3 linked regions of the Homo sapiens genome follow. The protein of the gene in region 1 purifies or fractionates together with the protein of each later gene. This does not show direct contact. Each region holds a gene or a part of one and is shown on either strand. Other genes may lie near its edges.

Region 1 (7,028 bases):
CTTCGTTCCTCGAGGCTCCTCCCATGTTCCCGCCCACCTCAGGTCCCCGAGGCTCCACCCATGTCACCGCCCACCTCAGCTACTTGAGAACCCCCGTCCCTTGGGTCCCGCCCACCGCATCTCCTCGAGGCTCCACCCCTGAGTCCCCGCCGATCTCGTTTTCGAGGCTCCGCCCCTAGGTCCCGCCCACCTCAGCTCTTCGATGCCGGTGAACAGCTTCTGCAATTCCTGCTCGCTCACGTAGGGGCCCTCGCCAGCCCGAGGCCCCATTCCCCAGCCTGCGGGGACCAGGCCGTGTGGCCGCGAGGGTTTGTCGGGACTCCCTGGCGGGCCGGGGCAGCCCTGGGACGTGGCGGCGGGGCCCAGGCTGTTCCAGGAGAGGCCAGCCTCCGGCTTCTGCTTCTCCTCCGGCTCCTGCTTCTCCTCCGGCTCCTGCTTCTCCTCCGGCTCCTGCAGCTCGGCCTCCTGCCGTCGCGGCGTCTCATCCTGCAGCTGCTGCTGGAGGTAGCGCAGCTTCTCCTGGGTGGTAAGGGAGGACGGGGTCACAGCGTCCAGCCGCTTTCCTCCCGCAACCACCTCCACCCCAAAATCCGCTCCAGTACTCCCCGAGATTGGAAGTAGAACGCCTGTGGGGACAGTATGTTGGAAGTCTCACTGGCTGTCATTAGGGAGGGGAGGCACCATTTGAGGCCCAGTTGGACTCCAATTCCCGCTAACCTCCCACAGCCTGCCTCCAGGTATCCACCCGGCCCTCCAAGCCCTCCAGGCGTCAAATACCAGTCCCGGCCACTTGGCAAGAACAACTGAAGCTTTCTCAGCATTTTGTTGGAAAATGAGTGGGCATGTGGACAGGACGGGCCTTCTCACCTGAAGTCCAGCTCGATTCTCTTTCTGGGACCTGAATGTGACTGCAGGGCAAGAGTCCCCCATCTGGGTGTTGGAGCCTCATTTGAATCCCTCTTATCAGCGAGTTCTAAGGATGACTATGTGCACGAAGGTGCAGTGTGGTGGTGGTGTCGGGGCAGGGAGTTCCACCTAAAAGTGTATCTTGAGTCCCTCGTGCATCTGACCTCCTCCCACAAATCCTGGGACTGCCCCCTAGCCCTTACCTCCAGCAGGGCAGAATTCTGCTTCAAGACGTTGGTTTTGATTTCAGCATCTTCCACAGACCGGGTCACCTTCCAGCAGTTCTCCTGGGTCAGACACCAGGGCGAGGGCCCTGCCTTCCCATTCCAGTTCTGCCTCCCAACCCTTAGCCTGTCTGTTTCCATCCAGGCTCCAGGCCTCCTAGCCCCCCAGTACAAGACACACTCACCAGCTCATTTCCTTGGCTAAGGGGATGGCTTCCTCCTTAGCCAGATGTGCCAGAGTGGCACCCCTCCACTTCCTCCCACCTCTCTTCGGTCCACCCATTCCATTTCTCCTCTTTCTTTTCTTTTTTTCTTTTGAGACTGAGTCTCGCTCTGTCGGCCAGGCTGGAGTGCAGTGGCGCAATCTTGGCTCACTGCAACTTCCACCTCGTGGATTCAAGCAATTCTTCTGCCTCAGCCTCCCAAGTAGCTGAGATTACAGGCGCCCGCCACCACACCTGGCTAATTTTTGTATTTTTAGTAGAGATGGGGTTTCACCATGTTGGCCAGGCTGGTCTCAAACTCCTGACCTCAGGTGATCTGCCTGCCTCGGCCTCCCAAAGTGCTGGGATTACAGATGTGAGCCACTGCACCCAGCCTCCTCCCCTCTTTCTCCCACCCTCTTCTTACTCCCATTCCCCTCTCCCCATCCATTCCTGCGTCCCACTGGCTCACCTTGAGTTGAATGCAGTACCCCTCCAACTCTTCTGCCTCTTGCCGCCTTCTCTCCAGATTCTCGCTCAGCACAGAACACTCGCTCTGGAGCATGGAAGGAGGAGAGGTTAGCCAAGGACACGAGGGGACAGCCTGTGGAAAAGAAGATCTGGGCCTGGGAAGGTTCCTTTTCTTTCTGAGCCTCAAGCTCCCCAACTGAGCTATGGGTGCATTCTGCTGGAGGCAGGCTCCAAGAAGGGAACTTGGCCCTGGAGGAAGGGCAGGTGTTGGATATAGGGGGTCCTCACACCTGCAGAGACTGCACGTGCTGGTTAACCCGGTTGGTCTTTTCCTTCAAGCTGGTGATGGAGTCTTTGGCGCGGACCAATCCACTGTTGACCCCACTCTGGGGAAGAATGGGAGACAGGTGAGTTAGTGGGTATGTGGGGGCAAGCCCCAAGCCCAGGAAGAATTCCAGAACTGGGAGGCTGTGTTTACACCTTGATTTTGCCCTGGAATGGCTATGTGACTTGGAGCCAAGGGCTATACCTCTGATTCTTAGCATTCCTGCGCGGCAAACCCAGGGCATAAACGACCTTTCTTCATGGTGGGCTGGGAGAAAAATAGGATCCAGGAGGGAAAGGGGGATGGAGGTGGGGTGCTCAGACATGTGGAGGAAGAAGGATGGACTCAACCAAACACTGAGCTAAATGTCCTTGGGGGCCAGGTGCCGTGGCTCACTCTGGTAATCCCAGCACTTTGGGAGGCCGAGGTGGGTGGATCACTTGAGGTCAGGAGTTCAAGACCAACTTGGCCAACATGGTGAAACCCCAACTCTACTAAAAATACAAAAATTAGCTAGGCGTGGTGGTGCCTTTAATCCCAGCTACTTGGGAGGCTGAGGCAGGAGAATTGCTTGAACCTGGGAAGCAGGGGCTGCAGTGAGCTGAGATTGCACCACCGTACTCCAATCTGGGCGACAGAGCGAGTCTCCGTCTAAAGAAAAAAAAAAGTCCTTGGGGTCCACAGCTTAAAAAGAGAAACTTTGAAAACACATGCCCTTTCTCTCCAGGAACTGGTGAATTACAAAGGAAGCCACTTTTCAGATATGAACACTTGCTATGCACCAAGCACTTGTCTTGTCTTTTATTCTTCACAACTCCGCCTCTTGAGGTTATTTGGCCTATTTTACAAGTGAGACAAATGGGTCTCAGAAATGGGATATCCCTTGTCTTCCCAAGCACTCAGCACATTAGGTGATCTCATCAGAATCTAGATTCAGAACGCTTGTTTTAAACCATGACACCATGTGGCCTCTGGTCATCATTACTTTATATCACATAAAGTGTTGTGCGACTCCTGCCAATCCGTGGTTCAGGAGGGATGCATGTGGTAGGATCCATTCTCCCAGCTTGGACAGTTACAGAAGCCTTAGCCTGGCACATGACTGCCCAACCAGAGACTACATTTCCCAGGTTTCCTTGCAGCTAGGTGTGGCCATGTGACTAAGTTCTGGCCAATGGAATGTGAGTGGAAATAATGTAGTCAATTTATTTTTGGGGGAGGTGTGTGTGTGTGGGGGGTCTCTCATTATTACCCTGGCTGGTGTGGAGCGGTACTATCATAGCTCACCAGCTCCTGGGCTGAAATGATCCTCTTGCCTCAGCCTCCCAAGTTGCTAAGAGTATAGGTGCTTGCTACCATGCCCAGCAAAATTTTAAGATGTTTGGTATAGATGGGTTCTCACTACGTTACCCAAGCTGGCCTCAAACTCCTGGGCTCAAGTGATCCTTTTGTGTCTGCCTGTAAGTGTTGGTCTTACAAGCATGAGCCACTGTGCCCAGCCTCCTTTTTTCTCTCTCTTTTATTTATTTTTTTTTTTAGCCTACATCATTACTTAGACTGTGCAGAATTATAGTCAATTTCTGAGTCATCCCTTATAGGAAAAGAGTGAGAACTTTCCCTTTTTCTCTCATTTCACTGGAATGCACAATTGAGGGCTGTCTTGGACCAGCAGATAGAGGACACAATGAAACAGAAGAAGCCTGAATCCTTGACATGGAGCCACCATACTCCATTCCAACCACCTGTGAAGACTTTCAGGGTGAGACATTACATCTTCTGTGTTATTCAAGCTGTGTTATTTTGTGTTTTTTTGTTACAGTAGTCAAATGTATAACTTCAATATCATTGACATTCTTTTTTTTTTTTTTTTTGACAGAGTCTTGCTCTTTTGTCAGGCTGGAGTGCAGTGGCATGATCTCGGCTCACTGCAACCTCTCACTCCCAGGTTCAAGCCATTCTCCTGCTTCAGCCTCCCGAATAGCTGGGACTACGGGCGTGCACCACCACACCAGGCTAATTTTTTGTATTTTAGTAGAGACAGGGTTTCACCATGTTGGCCAGGATGGTCTTGATCTCCTGACCTCGTGATTCACCCACCTCGGCCTCCCAAAGTGCTGGGATTACAGGCGTAAGCCACCGTGCCCGGCCTATCATTGACATTCTTATTTCACACCTGAAGGAAAAGAGACCCAGAGAGCCCTCTGCCAGCTGTTTATGACCAGTTCCAGCCGATGGAAGGGAAGTGGGCACTGGTCGATGTGTGGAAAAGACAGGCATGATCTCTTCCCCTGTTCCCCCTGCTTAATGGCTGGAAGGCAGTGGCGAGAGCAACTGTCTAGAAATGGCTGAGCAACCAGAACGTAGACACCTGTAACCTGCTGCATTTGAAGAGCAGAGCTACTAAGCTTATCAAGCATTTTATGTGCAAAAAAGCAGTTCTCTTGGTTTCTCTCATGGTTGCTGAACTAATACACAAAAGATAGACAGAATAAGTTTCCTCCCTTGTGAGATGGAGGCAGCAACACATTTCTTGCATGATTGCTCTGGGGAAGAAGTGGAATAAGAAATATTGTATCCAGTTAACAACAGCAAAATGGTGGATTAAATAATTCAGGCCGGGCACAGTGGCTCACACCTGTAATCCCAGCACTTTGGGAGGCCGAGGTGGGTGGATCACTTGAGGTCAGGAGTTCGAGACCAGCCTGACCAACGTGGTGGAGCCCCGTCTCTACTAAAAATACAAAAATTAGCCAGGCGTGGTGGCAGGCAGTTGTAATCCCAGCTACTTGGGAGGCTGACACAGGAGAATCGCTTGAATCCAGGAGGCGGAGGTTGCAGAGAGCCTAGATGGCGCCATTGCACTCCAGCCTGGGCGACAACGAGATTCCATCTCAAAAAAAAAAAAAAAAAAAAAAAGGAATTCAAAAATTCCACCCCTCCATAAAAACAATGAAAAAACTAACAAAAACCATAAGAAGCAGTTTGTTCACAATTCTGGAAATTAACCAAAGGCTTGCAGCAACTCAAAGAGCATTTATTCAAGAAAAGTGACTCTCGATAAAAAACGGCAAGACTTGAGGAATTTTAACTTATCCTAGTCCTATCTCCCACTCCCTAGCTCAGCAGGAACCCTGGAAAATAACAGCCCACATTTCCCACAGGGAGGAAGCAGAATGAAGCTAGAACTCATTCAAAGCCTCATAACCCAAAGAAGAGTCATTCTATGATTGTTAAGTGATGCCTGGGAAGACCCCACACAGAATATTTGTCTTTCCTTTTCAGAACTGGCAAAGCCGTGAAAGCATCTCTGATAGTTGAAGGAAAGATTTGGATGTTTGTCCTCTCCAAATCTCATGTTAAAATGTCATCCCTTGCCAGGCACAGTGGCTCACACCTGTAATCCCAGCACTTTGGGAGGCTGAGGCAGGAGGTTCACTTGAGCTCAGGAGTTTGAGAGCAGCCTGGACAACATGGTGAGACCCCAACTCTACAAAAAAAAAAAAAAAAAAAAAAAAAGTAGCCAGGTGTGGTGGTGTGCACCTGTAGTCCCAGCTCCTCAGGAGGCTGAGGTTGAAGAATCGCTTGAACCTGGGAGGTGGATGTTGCAGTGAGCCGAGATTGCGCCACTGCACTCCAGTCTGGATGACACTGAGATCCTGTCTCAAAAACAACAACAAAAAAATGTAACTCCCAGGCTGAGCGTGGTGGTTCACACCTGTAATCCCAGCACTCTGGGAGGCCAAGGTGGGCAGATCACCTGAGGTCAGGAATTCAAGACTAGCCTGGCCAACATGGCGAAAGCCCGACTCTACTGAAAATACAAAAATTCGCCAGGAATAGTGATGCATGCCTGTAGTCCCAGCTACTTGGGAGGCTGAGGCAGGAGAATCGCTTGAACCCGGGAGGTGGAGGTCGCAGTGAACCGAGATCATGCCACTGCTCTCCAGCCTGGGCAACAGAGCAAAACTCCATCTCAAAAAAAAAAAAAAAAAAAACTTGTGTGGCATCTCCTTGCTCCTGCTCTTGCCAGGTGATATGCTGGCTCCATCACCTTTTGCTATGAGGCCCTCACCAAAAGCTGAGCAGATGTTGGCACCATGTTTATCAGATAGCCTGTGAACCATAAGCCAGTTAAACCTCTTTTATTTATACCCAGCCTTGAGTATTCCTTTATAGCAATGCAAGAATGGACTAACATGGAGTGGGAGAGGGAACATTTGTAAAGAAAAAAAAATTTTACGCTTGTTTTAATGTTGCTACTGCCGAAGGCAATGGATAACAGTTGGGGTAAACAATAAAAAGCAAAAAATCTTAAAAGGAAAATCTGATGGACATATCTGTAGAAGCCTTGAAATGTTCCAACAAATTCCTGGGAATGTAGAAAGCCATTGGCCTGTGTAGGGTTGTGTACATGCTTGGGAAAGTTCTGAGAAGGCCCCAAGCTTTTCACCTCTGGCTGACCTTGAAACCTTGAAACGCTGCACAAGCAGGAAGGGAAGGCTAAGGTAGAGTTGTAAATTGTCTGAGTGTTAAAGGTGTGCCTCATCAGGCACACAGAGTGCCATTTGGCAAAGACTAGAAGATTTTGTTGTTGTTCCAGTTTAAGGAAATGTCTCTCCAATCATTAGCTAACCACTAAAATTAGAGAACAGAGACTTCAGTGGCCAAACATGACAAAGAACACAGATATTACAGAAATAGTTCAGAAAAGTCTGTTTTTTAAAAAGCAACTACAGGCCAGGTGCAGTAGCTCACACCTGTAATTCCAACAATTTGGGAGGATGAGGTGGGAGGACTGCTTGAGCCCAGAAGTTCAAGACCAGCCTGAGCAACATAGTAAAACCTAATCCCTTAAAAAATAGTAATAAAATAGGCCGGGCGTGTTGGCTCATGCCTGTA
Region 2 (7,028 bases), on another chromosome or scaffold:
TGGGAGCAATGTATTATACTGGCAAGTGCTTTGGAGTTACACCACTGGAGTGTGAATCTCGGCTCTATCAATAACTAGCTGTATAATAATGAGTAAGTTACCTAACCTTTCTTTATCCATTTCCTTATTTATAAAAAAGGGATTAATAATGGTACCGGCCATTCTAAGTTACTGTAATTAAATCAAATTACATTCACACAGCACTTTTGCACACAGCCAACCCACAGTAAACACTATTAGTAACCTTAGTTCATTAACTGTTTACTGTATACTCTAATAAATGTCTGATACACACCCACGCCCACCTGCACATACACAAATGCTCATAGTAATTATGTAAGGCAAGTATTATCTCCACATTTCAGACAGGTTAACTTACACAGCTATTATAGTAAGTGATAGAGCAGAACTTAAAAACCCAGTATGATTCAGGTCCAAACTCCTTTTCTTTCTTTATATAACCATAATATTTCAAATTAAGTAAGATTTCCTATATAACGTCCTGCCTCTCATCATTATCATCAAAATAATTCCCCAGAGGTGTAGGTTCTTAATTAAGCATTTCTTAGTGCATAACTCTATTCAATAACATTTTGCAATTTAAGGAATAATCTCATCTCAGCTCATCTGAGGTGTGGATTAAGTGTTCTTTAAGCCTTTATATACACGTGATCACATACGGCTCGTTTTTTCTGCTTGGGATTATAAAAATCTCCGTAACACCTAATACAGCTTTTGAAGTCACATATAAACAGACGTTGACATGTATATTAACAAACATATATAAACAAGGTGATTTCACACGTTATCTACTTAAAAGAGGGAAGTAAAGTAGTTTTACTAAAATATGCGATTATCCACTTGCCAGCTCACCTGTTAGTGGAGCCCCATGAAATGTCTGTGACCCCTGATATCCATCAGGCACCGAGTCTGGTCCATAATTCTCTGTGGGCCAACGATGACGGGATGCTGACTTACTGCTATTTAGTTTCAACTCCTGCATTTCTTTCTATTGGAAGAAAAAAAAAATCAAATAATTTTAATCATTTAATTATATCATGCCAGAAACAGTGCTGGGGAAACTTACTCTTTTAAATTTAAATAACTGATTTTTTCTTTTTTTCTTTTTTGAGATGGTGTCTCGATCTGTCGTCCAGGCTGGAGTGCAATGGCACAATCTTGGCTCACCGCAACCTCCACCTCCTGGGCTCAAGCAATTCTCCCACCTCAGCCTCCCGAGTAGCTGGGATTACAGGCGTCAGCCAGCACGCCCGGCTAATTTTTGGTATAATAGTAGAGATGGGGTTTCACCATGTTTGCCAGGCTAGTCTTGAACTCCTGACCTCAAGTGATCCACCACCTCAGCCTCCCAAAGTGCTGGGATTATAGGTGTGACCCACCACGCCCGGACCTGATTATATCTTTTGAAAGTTTCTATTTGCCAAAGAGTTCTAGGTACCTGGTGCTGATTTTAAAATATGATTCTTAATTTGTTAAAAATTTATCTGCTCCCATTTTCATTCGTTAATACAAAACCTAATTCATTAACTCTCTCACCTAAACAAATAACCTCCTAAATGATCACACCTTCATTTCCATTCTACACTTGCCTACATTAACCTTTCTGACGTTCACCTCCAGCCAAGACAATTCCCTGCTCAAAAAAACAAGTACCTACAAACTAAACTTCTTTCCCCAACTTTCACAGTCCTCTAACATTACACTGACCATCCTTTCAGTGTGTTCTTTCTACACTGCAACCTGGACTACCTGACATTCCAAATCACCTCCCCAAATTAGCTTTTCACTTAACCCTGTGTTCAAACAAAATACAACTAATTCTCAAGGTGATGTTCAAATGCTCCACCAGGAAAGGGAAAAAAGTAGTAGCTGCAGAGAATTTATTATGTATATAATAATACGTCCAATGCACTTAAACTCTTAATTTTTACACCATCTACACTGTTAGGTAAACAATATTAGCTCCTATCTTAAAATGAGAGAAACGGATGCAGGGAATAACAGCTGGAATTTGAAACACATCTGACTCCAAAAATGTTTTCTTAACACAACTCTGCTGCCTTGACAAGATGGCAGATAGATCCAATGCCGTCTAGTGTAGCTATGTGGCTACTTGATCTCTGCTGAAGAAAACTAAATGACAGCACCATACCCAACACCCTAGAACCTACAAAATGTCCCCTTACAAAACAGACACTTAACAGGAAATTCTTTTTCCAAAGAAATTGTAGTGGTATCAGAAAACAGGTAAATTTTGAAAAGTTTCAAACTTCTCTGTATCAGCCCAGGAATCCGATCAGTTCTAACAAGTGAGGTCAGGGACAGATCTAGCATGTCTGCTTTCTGTTTCTACAAGTGTTTCAATTAAAAATTTCCCAGAAAGACCTAACCATGAGGTCCAAAACTATCTCAATTTTCAAGCTAAATAAAATTTCCCCCATTCATCCATCTACAGTGCCTAGTCCAGATGCTACACATACACATCCAAGAAATAAGAAACTAGTGGAATCACCTAGAAAACTTTATAGTCACTGTTGGTATCCGCACCAGAGCTTTGAATTTGCAATCACTGCTGTAACTGTAATTTTTAACATTCAGTGTGATGAGAACTGGCTTCAATAATTCTCTCATTTTAAAGATAAGAAGCCAAACAGTCACAAAGGAAGTGACTGGCCCAAGATCATTAATTAATGGCAGAGTCAGTACTAGTACCAAGCTTTTCAAGCTCATGGACTAGTGCTCCACTATACTTCCACAGAATACAATGTTGGGAGCCTGAAACCTGTATGTTAAGTCAAAATTGTATGTAATTGTCATAGGCCACGACTACACAGAATTAACATTCAAAATTTTTGTGCAAATTCAAAAATGTCTTCCCCACCAAATAGTATTCTCTTAATTTGCAAATGCTGCTGATCACACTGTAATAATCGCCACACATCAGCATATCCTTGATGTAACTTTAGCAGTATGAGTAATTTAGTTCTTGCTTGATAAACATGAAAGAACCTACTTTTATTTCCAATTCCAAAAAAGTCAAGCTCCTTTGAACCCTATTGTTAAAATAAGATATATATACATAACTATTTCCTTACATAATTAAGTCAAATTCATATGGAAGTATTAAAATATAGTAAGACTTTTTGAAGCTCAGACCACTTTTCGATTCCTAGCTATACATTTGAAACACATGTAATCCACAGCTAATCTGGGAATGAACTCATAGACCAGAGTATGATTAGTACATTGTAGCACTTCAATCACTCGGGAACCTTCTCTGTGTCAGGAACTCTTATATTTTAAATAAAACAGTTTCTACCTTTGAAGGTCTCAAATTTTGTGGAAGATGAGGAGAGAGACACATAAAGTACTTTCAAAAATATGGTAAAGGGCTGGGTGCGGTGGTTTACACCTGTAATCCCAGCACTTTGGGAGGCCAAGGTGGGCAGATCACCTGAGGTCAGAAGTTCAAAACCAGCCTGGCCAACATGGTGAAACTCTGTGTCTACTAAAAATACAAAAATTAGCTGGGCCTGGTGGCGGGTGCCTGTAATCCCAGCTACTCGGGAGGCTGAGGCAGGAGAGTCACTTGAACCTGGGAGGTGGAGGTTGCAGTGAGCCAAGATCACACCATTGCACTCCAGACTGGGCAACAGAGTGAGACTCCATCTCAAAACAAAACAAAACAAAATATGGTAAAGGGTCAAGACCGAGGTATGTAGGCTGGGCACAGTGGCTCACACCTGCAATCCCAGCACTTTGGGAGGCTGAAGCAGGAGGATTGTTTGAGCCAGGAGTTCAAGGCCACCCTGGGCAACATGGCAAAATCCCATCTCTACAAAAAATACAACAATTAGCTGGGCCTGGTGGCATGTGACTGTCTGTAGTCCTGGCTTCGTGGCAGGCTGAGCCAAGAGGCTCTCTTGAGCTAGGAGGTTGAAGCCGCAGTAAGCTGTGATCATACCACTGTACTCCAGCCTGCACAACAGAACAAGACCCTTGTCTTAAAAAAAAAAAAAAAAGACCAAAATGTCCCCTTGCCATACTATTTGGATGGCAAGGGGACATTCTGACCAGCTTCAGAAAAAAAGTGAGAGAGTAGCCAGGGAAGGAATCTTGGAATAAAAAGTACAGCTAGAGAAATTAAGTGACTTACCTTAATGGCCTCTACTTGTTGGCAAATCATATTCAGTAAAGAATTCCGATCTTCTGTCCATCGAGGTGGTGTTTCGGGAGAATACTGAAAAAAAAAATAAAAATAACAAAACAGCATTTAAAACACTTAGAACAGAAACAATTTCACAATGAAATGATTCCATTCTTTCCTGTTTACCTTGTAACTTTTACTTGGTGATAGTGAATATTTGGTAGGAGACGGTGTAGAATGTTTTATTTCTGAATCTGCATTTCGCAAAGAACCATTTTTATAGAGAGGACCTCCTTCACTATAGTCTTCGAGTTCCTGCATGACTGAATTAAGCATCTGTTTTACAGACTCCAGGGGCACAGGCAACTAAAAATAAAAGACATTAATTAAGGGCTTTCATTTGCAAAAAATTCCAAAAGTAAAAACTCTAAAATGATATATTTTATCTTATTTACATTTTTGTCACTTTAATAAGCACTTTACACTTTAAATAATAATACACGTGAAAGTGTTTTTTAATTATCTTTTTTCTTTGTTTTTCTGTTGTTTTGTATTATTATTTTTATTTTTTTGTCTTTATTCTATTTTTTTCTTCAGGAACACAGAAAAGTGTTGTACAGTCTAACATCTTCTGATTCTAAAGTCCATGCTCTTTCTATTACTTCTGTTAACCATGATAATTGTAGAGGAATGTTAACTTGGAAAGCTTTTCCAAGTGAACAAAATAAGTTACTGATGTTTTCTAACTGATTTTCAATGGTGACAGAAATACAGATGCTACAATACACCAGACAACATAAATCCTAATAAAAGAGTAGTAACACAAATTAATCAACAAAACACTCAGAAGACTGAACATAATTTAACATCATCATGACAATCTCAAACAGCTGACAGCAAGAAAACAAGGGCGTTCATAATGGCTGATGACGATGAGAAGAAATGCTCTTAAGTTGTCAGCAACAACTTTCAATTTCAGCAAAGTTCATTAAGAATTAGTCCTGAGGTTATAATATTTGTTTTGATTACACTGCTAAGATAACAAAATCAATGTCTTATCTTAGAAATCTTTTCTAATTCCCCAAGAAGTACTTTTTAAGAGCATATACCTAGATTCCCAAGTTTAAAAAGACACACCAAACCTAAGACAAAGCAAGCAAATCTAAGCATTTAGACACACGCATCCCTTCTGTGCATTAATAACAACATATTACTGAGTATTTTTGAAATTACCAAAATATAAGACCAACGCAAAAACACTGACCAGTGGGTTATCAGTAAGAACGTACATACAACAACCTGCTACTTACTTTCTTGACCACTGAAAGATTTGAATCACCGTCATCTATAATCTTTATTAGGTAGTCCCTGGTCTTTGTCAGATAATTTCTGCATTCTTCTTGTTCTTCAGGAGAAAGGGCATCATTTTCAATGTCTTCTGCCTTCCTGTGAAAAATCTATACAAATAGTGCTTTCATGAAATCATTAGCTTTTTAAAACAAAAAACTTTCAGCTTGGCCACGCATGGTGGCTCATGCCTGTAATCCCAGCAACTCGGGAGCTGAGGCACAAGAATCGCTTGAGCCTGGGAAGCAGAGGTTGCAGTGAGCCAAGATTGTGCCACTGCACTCTAGCCTGGCCAACAGAGAAACCCCGTCTTTTAAAAAAAATAATAAATAAATAAATACAACTTTTAGCTCAAGTACTGCATCTACTTACCAGTGCAAGATTCCAATAAGAAACAACACTTTTTATAGATTCAAAAGCAGTCACAGCATCTTCTATATTTCCATTTACTGCATCCAACATAGCAAAAGTTATGTGTGCGTCTTCTTCATATTCAACAATTTCTGATGCCTAAACACATAGAATAGTTTTTAGTCAAATTGTTTATACTCAGAATATAAAACCCAAATGATTTTCCAAAGATTTTATATGATCTTAAGAGACAAACATCTCATTACTCTTCTCTGTCATATCTTATCTGTGAGAGCTAGTGAATTTAGAAAACAAGATTACCGTTAAATAACAAGGCAATTAATTTAAGCAGTTTATAGCTCCACGTCTTTGTTTATAAACTGGAAATTCCCATCTCCAATAAATTCATAAAGGAACTCTGTTACCTGAATGTCTACACTATGAAAATGTTTAAACAGAGGATCAATAGGTTCAGGAATACTGTTCTTCTTTATTATCTTCAACAATGGCAAAACTTTCTTCCAATAATGAACACTTCTCCCTATGTATTCTAGTTGACCATAAAAAGAATTAAGACCGCTGCCCTAAAAAAGAAAGTTAAAAGCACACAACTTTAAGGAACACGCATGATTAGATCTAAAGTTCATTTACAAGTTGTAAGAACTGGCTAAAATTTCAAGTCAAAACCAAATGGTACCTCAATAGTCATTTGTTCAACTTCCAAATACTGTAATAACTAAACCACCTTAATACCAGTGAACTCACTGCAACCTCTGCCGTGCAGGTTCAAGCAATTCTCCTGCCTCAGCTTCCCAAGTAGCTGGGATTACAGGCACCTGCCACCATGTCTGGCTAATTTTGTAGTTTTAGTAGAGTTTTTTTTTGTATTTTTAGCAGAGACGGGGTTTCACCGTGTTAGCCAGGAATGATCTCGACCTCCTGACCTTGTGATCTGCCCGCCTCGGCCTCCTAACGTGCTGGGATTACAGGTGTGAGCCACCGCACCCGGCCTCTACACTCAACTTTTAAATGCTTCTAATGATACCACTCTAACGTAGCAATCCAAACTACTTTTTAACAGTTGTCCTTTTTAGATAGCTGAAACCTGCCTCTTCTGTAGTGTCAGTTTGTTCAAAAGGCTGACCATCTACACCTAATGGTG
Region 3 (6,717 bases), on another chromosome or scaffold:
TCTTCCCCTTTTGTTTCCCAGGACCTGGGAGAGTTCAGCCGGGTGGTCCAAGGCTGCCCGAGGCCATGGGAGGACCTTCGGAACCCCCCATGCTACTCCTGGGTCAAAGGGGGTTCTCTGCTGGGCAGTGTGGAGGCGACCACTCTAACCCCTACCCCTGCATTGAGTGAAGAGGTGGGGTCAGCCTCAGGTTCTCTCCGGACCCCCAGCGGAGCCCACCCGTTCACTTCGTTTTACTCAGTGGGGCTCCCCGGGAGGGGCAGGGAGAGTCTGGTGTGGCCTTGAGAACCGAGTGTGTGACCAGGACCCGGCAGCAGGCACCACGCCCACCACCCTCGAGCCTGGCCTCCTCGGCCTACATTTGGGTGCGCCCCACGGAGCTCTGTCTACACCTTAGGAGCGAGTGGGAGCCCCTCTCTGTGATGAGAGCGTCGCAACCCTGCCCTGACCTTTGCAGCCCCAGCACTGCAGGGCGCCACTCCCTCCCCGTCTCCAGACCCGCACTCCTACACAGCCCGGACTCTAGGAAAACAATCCTTTTATTGAACATACCCAAGAACGGGGGTGGGAAGGCAGCAGGAGGGGTCAGGGCGGAGGGGCCTCGGCCTGGAGAGGGGAGACTGGCCGCAGCCGGGACTCACTGGCACGGGTCCCTGAGGACCCCTCGCTCGGCGGCCGCGCTGCCCAGAATGAAGCCCACGGCCAGGGACACTGTCTGGTCGAAGGCGCCGCGCAGCTGCTCCACGTGCTGGTTCAAGGTCAGCAGCTGGTCGCGCAGCGGGCCCAGGATGTTCGCGATGTCGCCCAGGTGCCCCAGGGTCTGCAGCAGGGCGGTGTTCAGCGACGGGGGCGCGGCCGGAGGGGGCGCGCAGTCCTCGGGGCGGCCGGGCGGCGAGTCGGGGTCTTCGCGGGCCGGGGGTGGCGGCGGGGACCCGGGGCCGCGGACGGGCGCGCGGTCCTCGGGGATGCAGGTGGCGAGGGCGGTCGGGGCGGGAGCTGGCGGGGAGCCGGGGGCGGGGGAGGCGTCCGCAGACTTCGGTGGGGACGGGCTGAAGCGGAGCGTCCAGGTGGGGTCCGCGTCGCGGTCGCGGGCGGTGGGCAGCGGGGTGGCGTCTGGGAACGCGGAGCAGGCGGTCGGGCGGATTTTCGCGGGGCGCGCCCGCCCCTCCCCCGCAGCCCTCGGCAGCCCCCGGTTCCTCCGCAGTCCTCGGCCCCACCTGGCCCCCCAGTCCCCCGCCTACCTGGTTCGCTGGGAGCCGGCGCGTGCGCGTTGGGGACCGGGCGGCGGGCGCGCTGGGGGCGCCCGGACCCCGGGGAGCGGCGGCGAGGCCGTTTGCGCCCGTTGTCGCCCAGCAGCCCCATGAGCTTCCGGATCTGCTCGTCGAAGGGCCCGGGCGGCTGGCCGTGCGCCTCGCGAAACTTGTCTTTAAGGAACTTGTAGCGGCGGCGGCACTGCGCGGGGGTGCGGCGCACCTGCTGCTGGGCCAGCGCGGCCGACACGCGGCGGTAGGTGGGCAGGGCCTGGCGGCGGTCCAGGAGCAGCGCGCGCCACACGGCCGGTTGCAGCAGCGTCCCCAGCAGCAGCTCCGTCTCCCGGGCGCTCCAGGGCGTGCGCTGCGCCGAGCCCGGGGACACCGGCAACCCGAGTTCCCCCAGCGCGCTGGGCGAGGCGGGCCTCCGGGGCGGGGTCCCCGGGGCGTCTCCGGGTGTCCGCGGCTCGGGGTCGGGGCTGGCGGGCGAGGGCGGCGCGGGGGGCGCGAGCGGGGGCGGCCTGCGGGGCCGGAGCAGCATCCCGGGGCTGGGGCGCGGCGCGCGAGGATGGGGAGAGGGCCAGACGCCGCCCGGGCCGCCCACACGCGTTCTGAGCATCCCGCGCCGCCGTCCCTCCGTCCCAGCCGGGTCTACGCGACCCTCCCACCATCCCCGCCCCGCCCCGCGCGCCCCGCCCCGCCCGCCGGGTCCTAAGGGGTCGGTCCTGGCGCTGCGGCCGGGAAGACGCAGAGCAAAGACTGGCTTCGGTTGGAAACGGAGGGTCCTCAGGAGTTCTGTTCTTAGACCCGTTCAACGGAGGTGCCGCGATGCCTAAGCCCCGGCGGCTCCGCTCGTTTTTAGCCTGTGCCGAGCCTACCCCCGCCCCCGTCGAGGTGTGTGCGGAGCCCCTCCCGCTCCGGAAGGCGCTGGCGCCCCCTTGTCCGGCCCCCAGTGCTGCCCCCGCCCCCGCCGCCCCCGCCCGGGCTCAGCACCTGCACGCGAGGGGTCCGGAGGACCGACCCGGGTCCCAGGGGGAGTCGCCAGGCCAGGGGATGGGTCCGAGGAGAAGCCACGCCAGCCGCGGGAATGGGTGTCGGAATTCACGCGCTCGCAGAAGTAGCTTTTAAAATCTGAACTTCTTCCATCTGCAGCGCGTCTGCAGCCAGCATCCCTGGGAGGAGGAAATTCTCTTCCTATTAAATGCTCTTCCTCCTTGCCGCACGGCGCCGAGTCCTTCTGTCTCCTGGGTCTCCTCTGGGCCGTGGCAGCTTCTCGCGTCCTCGACACGGTTGAGGACGGGCCAGGTGTTTTGTTGAATGTTCCTCGACTTGGGTTTGCCTGGTGTCTTCCTGTGATCCGACTAGGGTGGTGGGTTTTAGGAAGGAAGGCGCAGGGGTGGAGTCTCGCCCCTCCTGTCTTGTGGCTCAGCACCGGTGAGGTCTGCTCCGTGCTGGGGTGCGGACTGTCTGCCACTCTTGCAGTCTTCAGGTATCGCCTTTCCATCCCTGCTCTGGTCACTGGAATCCGGCCCCTCAGCCCATCCCCAACTCATGGGGAGAGTAATTAGGCCCCACCTCCTGGAGGGGTGTCTGTATTTTCTGGGATTCTTCTGTAAGGTTTGTCTCTCTGCCTGTTGATTTATTTACTCAGTCATTTATTTCTACAGTGTGGGCTCGTGTATATTTATTTTATCCTTTAGGTCATAACCCGATGCTGTTATTATTTATTTGTTTTAAAAGTTCTGTTTGTTTTTATTATTTTTTACAAATGGGGTCTCTTTCTGTCACTCAGGCTGGAGTGCAGTGGCCTGATCACAGCTCACTGTAGCCTTGAACTCTTGGGCCCAAGTGATCCTCCAGCCTCAGCTTCCTTGGTAGCTGGGACTACATGTGTGCACCACCACACGCACCTAGTTTTTTTTTTTTTTTTTTACTTTTTGTAGGGACAGGGTCTTGCTATGTTGCCTAGGCTCGTCTTGAACTCCTGGGCTCAAGTGATCCTCCTGCCTGGGCCTCCCAATGTGCTGAGATTACAGGAGTGAGCCCCTGTGCCGGGCTTTTATTTGTATTTTTGCGCATATCGTTCCTGCTTTGGCCATTGAAAGTCTTCTCACCTCCTCCTCTCTTCCTTGTCCTTTTGAAACCCCCTCCCAGCTCCCTGGCAATACAGGATGCTCCTGCCTCATCTGGTCCTTTGCCGACCCTGGTCCTAGAATCAGCTTTTCAGACACTTCTCAAGAAATCTGTGGTTCCTGGCCAGGCACTCATACACGGGGCTCACACCTGTATTCCTAGCACTTTGGGAGGCTGAGGTGGGCAGATCTCCTGAGGCCAGGAGTTTGAGACTGACCTGGGCAATATAGTGAGACCCCCATCTCTGCAAAAAAATAAAAAATAGCCGAGTGTAGTAGCAGGTGCCTGTAGTTCCAGCTACTTGGGAGGCTGAGGCGGGAGGATGTCCTTTTGCTCAGGAGGTTAAGCCTGCAGTGTACCGTGATGACCTGACTGCACTCCTGCCTGGGTGACAGGGCAAGACTCTGTCTTAAAAAGAAAAGGGGGGCGTGCAGGCGTGGTGGCTGTAATCCCAGCACTTTGGGAGGCTGAGGCAGGCGGATCACCTGAGGTCAGGAGTCTGAGACCAGCCTGGCCAACATGGTGAAACCCCATCTCTACTAAAAATACAAAAATTAGCGAGGCGTTGGATGTGCACCTGTAATCCCAGCTTCTAGGGAGGCTGAGGCAGGAGAATTGCTTGAACCTGGGAGGTGGATCTAAAAAAAAAAAAAAGGCTGGGCGCGTGGCTCAAGCCTGTTGACACCCAGCACTTTGGGGGGCCGAGGCGGGCGGATCACGAGGTCAGGAGATTGAGACCATCCTGGCTAACACAGTGAAACCCGTCTCTACTAAAAATACAAAAAATTAGCTGGGTGTCGTGGCATGTGTCTGTAGTCCCAGCTACTCAGGAGGCTGAGGCAGGAGAATCGCTTGAACCCAAGAGGTGGAGGTTGCAGTGAGCCAAGATCGCACCACTGCATTCCAGCCTAGGTGACGGAGTGAGACTCTGTCTCAAAAAAAAAAAAAAGATTTTTAATAACTGAGGGTTGGGGGTGCTGGGGGCATCTGATGGGTGGAGATCAGAGATGATGGTGCACAGGACGCCAGCGCAGACTGTCTAGCCCACAGTGGCACTGCAGTGCACAGCACAGCCTGCCTTGAACCCGTCTGGGACAGAGCCGGGGAGTGGATGGCGGCGTGGGGGACAGAGCCGGGGAGTGGATGGCGGCGTGGGGGACAGAGCCGGGGAGTGGATGGCGGCGTGGGGGACAGAGCCGGGGAGTGGATGGCGCCGAGAAGCGAGGCTCATGAGGTTGCTGGCTGTCAGCTCTCTAAGAGAAAAGTCCTGTGCTCAGCGGAGCTGAATTTATTGGAGCCACTGCAGTGAGGGGTCCGGCCTGCATGGCGTGGGGGCGAGGACGCACACATGACCAGGACCAGGGCCCCCTGTCTCGGGCAGCTCCTGTCCAGCACAATTGGACTCCACCATCTTGTCTTCTCGGCTTCTCCTGGGCCTCCCTCCAGGCGGATAACCGCACCGTTCATCACGGGAACTTCCCGAAAGACCCATCAGCTCTTTTCCCAAAAGCATCCACAGTTTACAACCCCAAAACCATTGGAAGCCCTGGCTGTGAGCCCCTCCCTGAGTGGTGTCCACCAGTCTTACCCTGTGACAACCGTGAGAGTGTCCTTTCCCGGGCCACAAGCCCCACCTGCAGGAGCTCCCCGTCCTGGCCTCCTGCTCCACTGTGGTCAGAGTTACGGCGAGCTTGCACCGTGATGACGGGGGACCCAGCTCTGTCTTGCCCACAGGGCTGCCAGGTGGGAACTGGCTGGGTTGGGCAGAGTTTAGCGCAGATTGACCCAAGAACAGCCGTGGGTCTGTGCAAATAGCCTGTAAGAACTGATGGACAGACGCCCGTCCTGATCTTGGATGAAGACACTGCACATCCAGCATGAGGGACGTCCTTTTTGTCAATGGAGGGCGAGCCTGGATGTGCGCACACAGGAGCGTGGTTACGGGAGTCCGTTCTTTTAGGCTGTTTGCAGTCACAACCAGAAGCAAGTGTTTCCTGCCCCAGCCGGTGCGTTTGCTTGTTCCCACGGCCTGGGAGTGCTGGCGGTAGCTTTCCTCCTGGCGGGGCCTGAGTTGTGACACACGTCTGGCAGGCCCGGGCCTTTCTCTGCGGCATCAGAGGGCGTCGCTGTGGACCGGCAGATTCGTTTTCAGTCCTGGGTTGAGCACATCTCGCACCTGGAGTCCTTGTGAGCACCTGTAAGGGGCCTTCGTGCGGCCATGAAGGAAAACGTGTCGACCTGCAGAGGTCACCGTGGGGACCCGCAGAGTGACCACACAGCAGCAGCTGGTAGAAAGGACTTTATTCAGAAATTGGTGCCAGGACGGGAGGGAGCCATGCGGACAGTCGCGCTGAAGCCTGAGCCCAGTGCTGCCCCGGGGTCAGTCCTGACCGCTGGAATGTTGATTTGCACTGAGCACTGTCTGTTAGATACAAAATCTGAAAATGCGGGCGTGGGTCAGCAAAACATAATCCATATAAAAGCCTAAAAAAAAGTGAACTGCATTTCGTGGCCAGGACGCCGACTTCCTCTCATGTTACATCGAAGCGGGGCCCGGATGTCTCCGGTGAATTTATGTGGGAAAACACATCTTGACATTAAAAATGCAGCGATTTGTCACAGGTCACAGTTTTCCTAGAAATGCCACTAGCTGGCTGCTCTAAAGAATGACTAATTCTAAAACTCAAAAGCACAACCCTGGGTCTTGTGATTGGCACCGTGAGAGCCCCACGGAGCTGGGGCCGTGCCCGGGGCTCTGGTCACCCAGCTGCAGAGGCCAATGTGGAGCTGACTGCGCGGGACTCCCATGGCCCTGGCCAAGGGGCTCCACACCAGCTGCCTGGGGTCCAAGAACCTGAGCAAGGGCAAGGGGCCGTGGAGGCAGCGCACTTCCTGTCTCTGGCGAAGCGTGAGTGTGTGGCGAGCTGTGGAGGCAGGGCTGCGGGCGCACATGCATGGCTGCTGGAGGCGGTGGGCAGTGGCGGTCCCTGGGGCATGAGATGGGTGGGGGCACTCTCAGGGACCCCCGCCACAGAGCCTCTGTCTTGGAGCTGCTCTGAGTGTCCTTTCCAGGAAGCAGGGCCTTTGCCCGGGCATGACCACCTCACCAAGGGCTGTTCTAAGCTGGGGGGCCCTGGGCCCTGGGGGAGCAGGCCCAGCCCAAGGTGCCTGCTCCAGCAGCAGGCCTTGGGCACCTGGGGGTCTGGGCTGGGGAGGAGGGGCACTGGGCAGGGAAGGGGAGAGCGGTTCTGGGTCTGGGTTGTGGGGGGTGAACCCAGGCAGGGTCTCGGACCGGAGGTCTCGGAGTCCCTGGGAGCTGCAGTTGGCCACTCAG

The links. The genes of interacting proteins can lie anywhere in the genome.
Region 2: the proteins of TSKS (region 1) and RGPD5 purify together in Homo sapiens (affinity purification with mass spectrometry, with the first as the bait; 2 studies listed by BioGRID). This does not show direct contact.
Region 3: the proteins of TSKS (region 1) and UTF1 purify together in Homo sapiens (affinity purification with mass spectrometry; 2 studies listed by BioGRID and IntAct, with this or other methods). This does not show direct contact.

Annotation. Positions count from the first base shown.
Region 1 is NC_000019.10:49,746,280-49,753,307, forward strand, and holds part of TSKS (testis-specific serine kinase substrate), read right to left. Parts: intron 3,889-7,028; exon of another isoform or gene 3,783-3,888; intron 2,212-3,782; exon of another isoform or gene 2,191-2,211; coding exon 2,095-2,190; exon of another isoform or gene 1,890-2,094; coding exon 1,806-1,889; intron 1,194-1,805; coding exon 1,110-1,193; intron 520-1,109; coding exon 191-519; intron 1-190. UniProt on the Homo sapiens protein: May play a role in testicular physiology, most probably in the process of spermatogenesis or spermatid development.
Region 2 is NC_000002.12:109,825,298-109,832,325, reverse strand, and holds part of RGPD5 (RANBP2-like and GRIP domain-containing protein 5/6), read right to left. Parts: intron 6,451-7,028; coding exon 6,292-6,450; intron 6,026-6,291; coding exon 5,888-6,025; intron 5,626-5,887; coding exon 5,479-5,625; intron 4,535-5,478; coding exon 4,355-4,534; intron 4,262-4,354; coding exon 4,178-4,261; intron 1,010-4,177; coding exon 874-1,009; intron 1-873.
Region 3 is NC_000010.11:133,225,363-133,232,079, reverse strand, and holds UTF1 (undifferentiated embryonic cell transcription factor 1), read right to left. Parts: upstream 1,864-6,717; 5' UTR 1,792-1,863; coding exon 1,242-1,791; intron 1,114-1,241; coding exon 638-1,113; 3' UTR 522-637; downstream 1-521.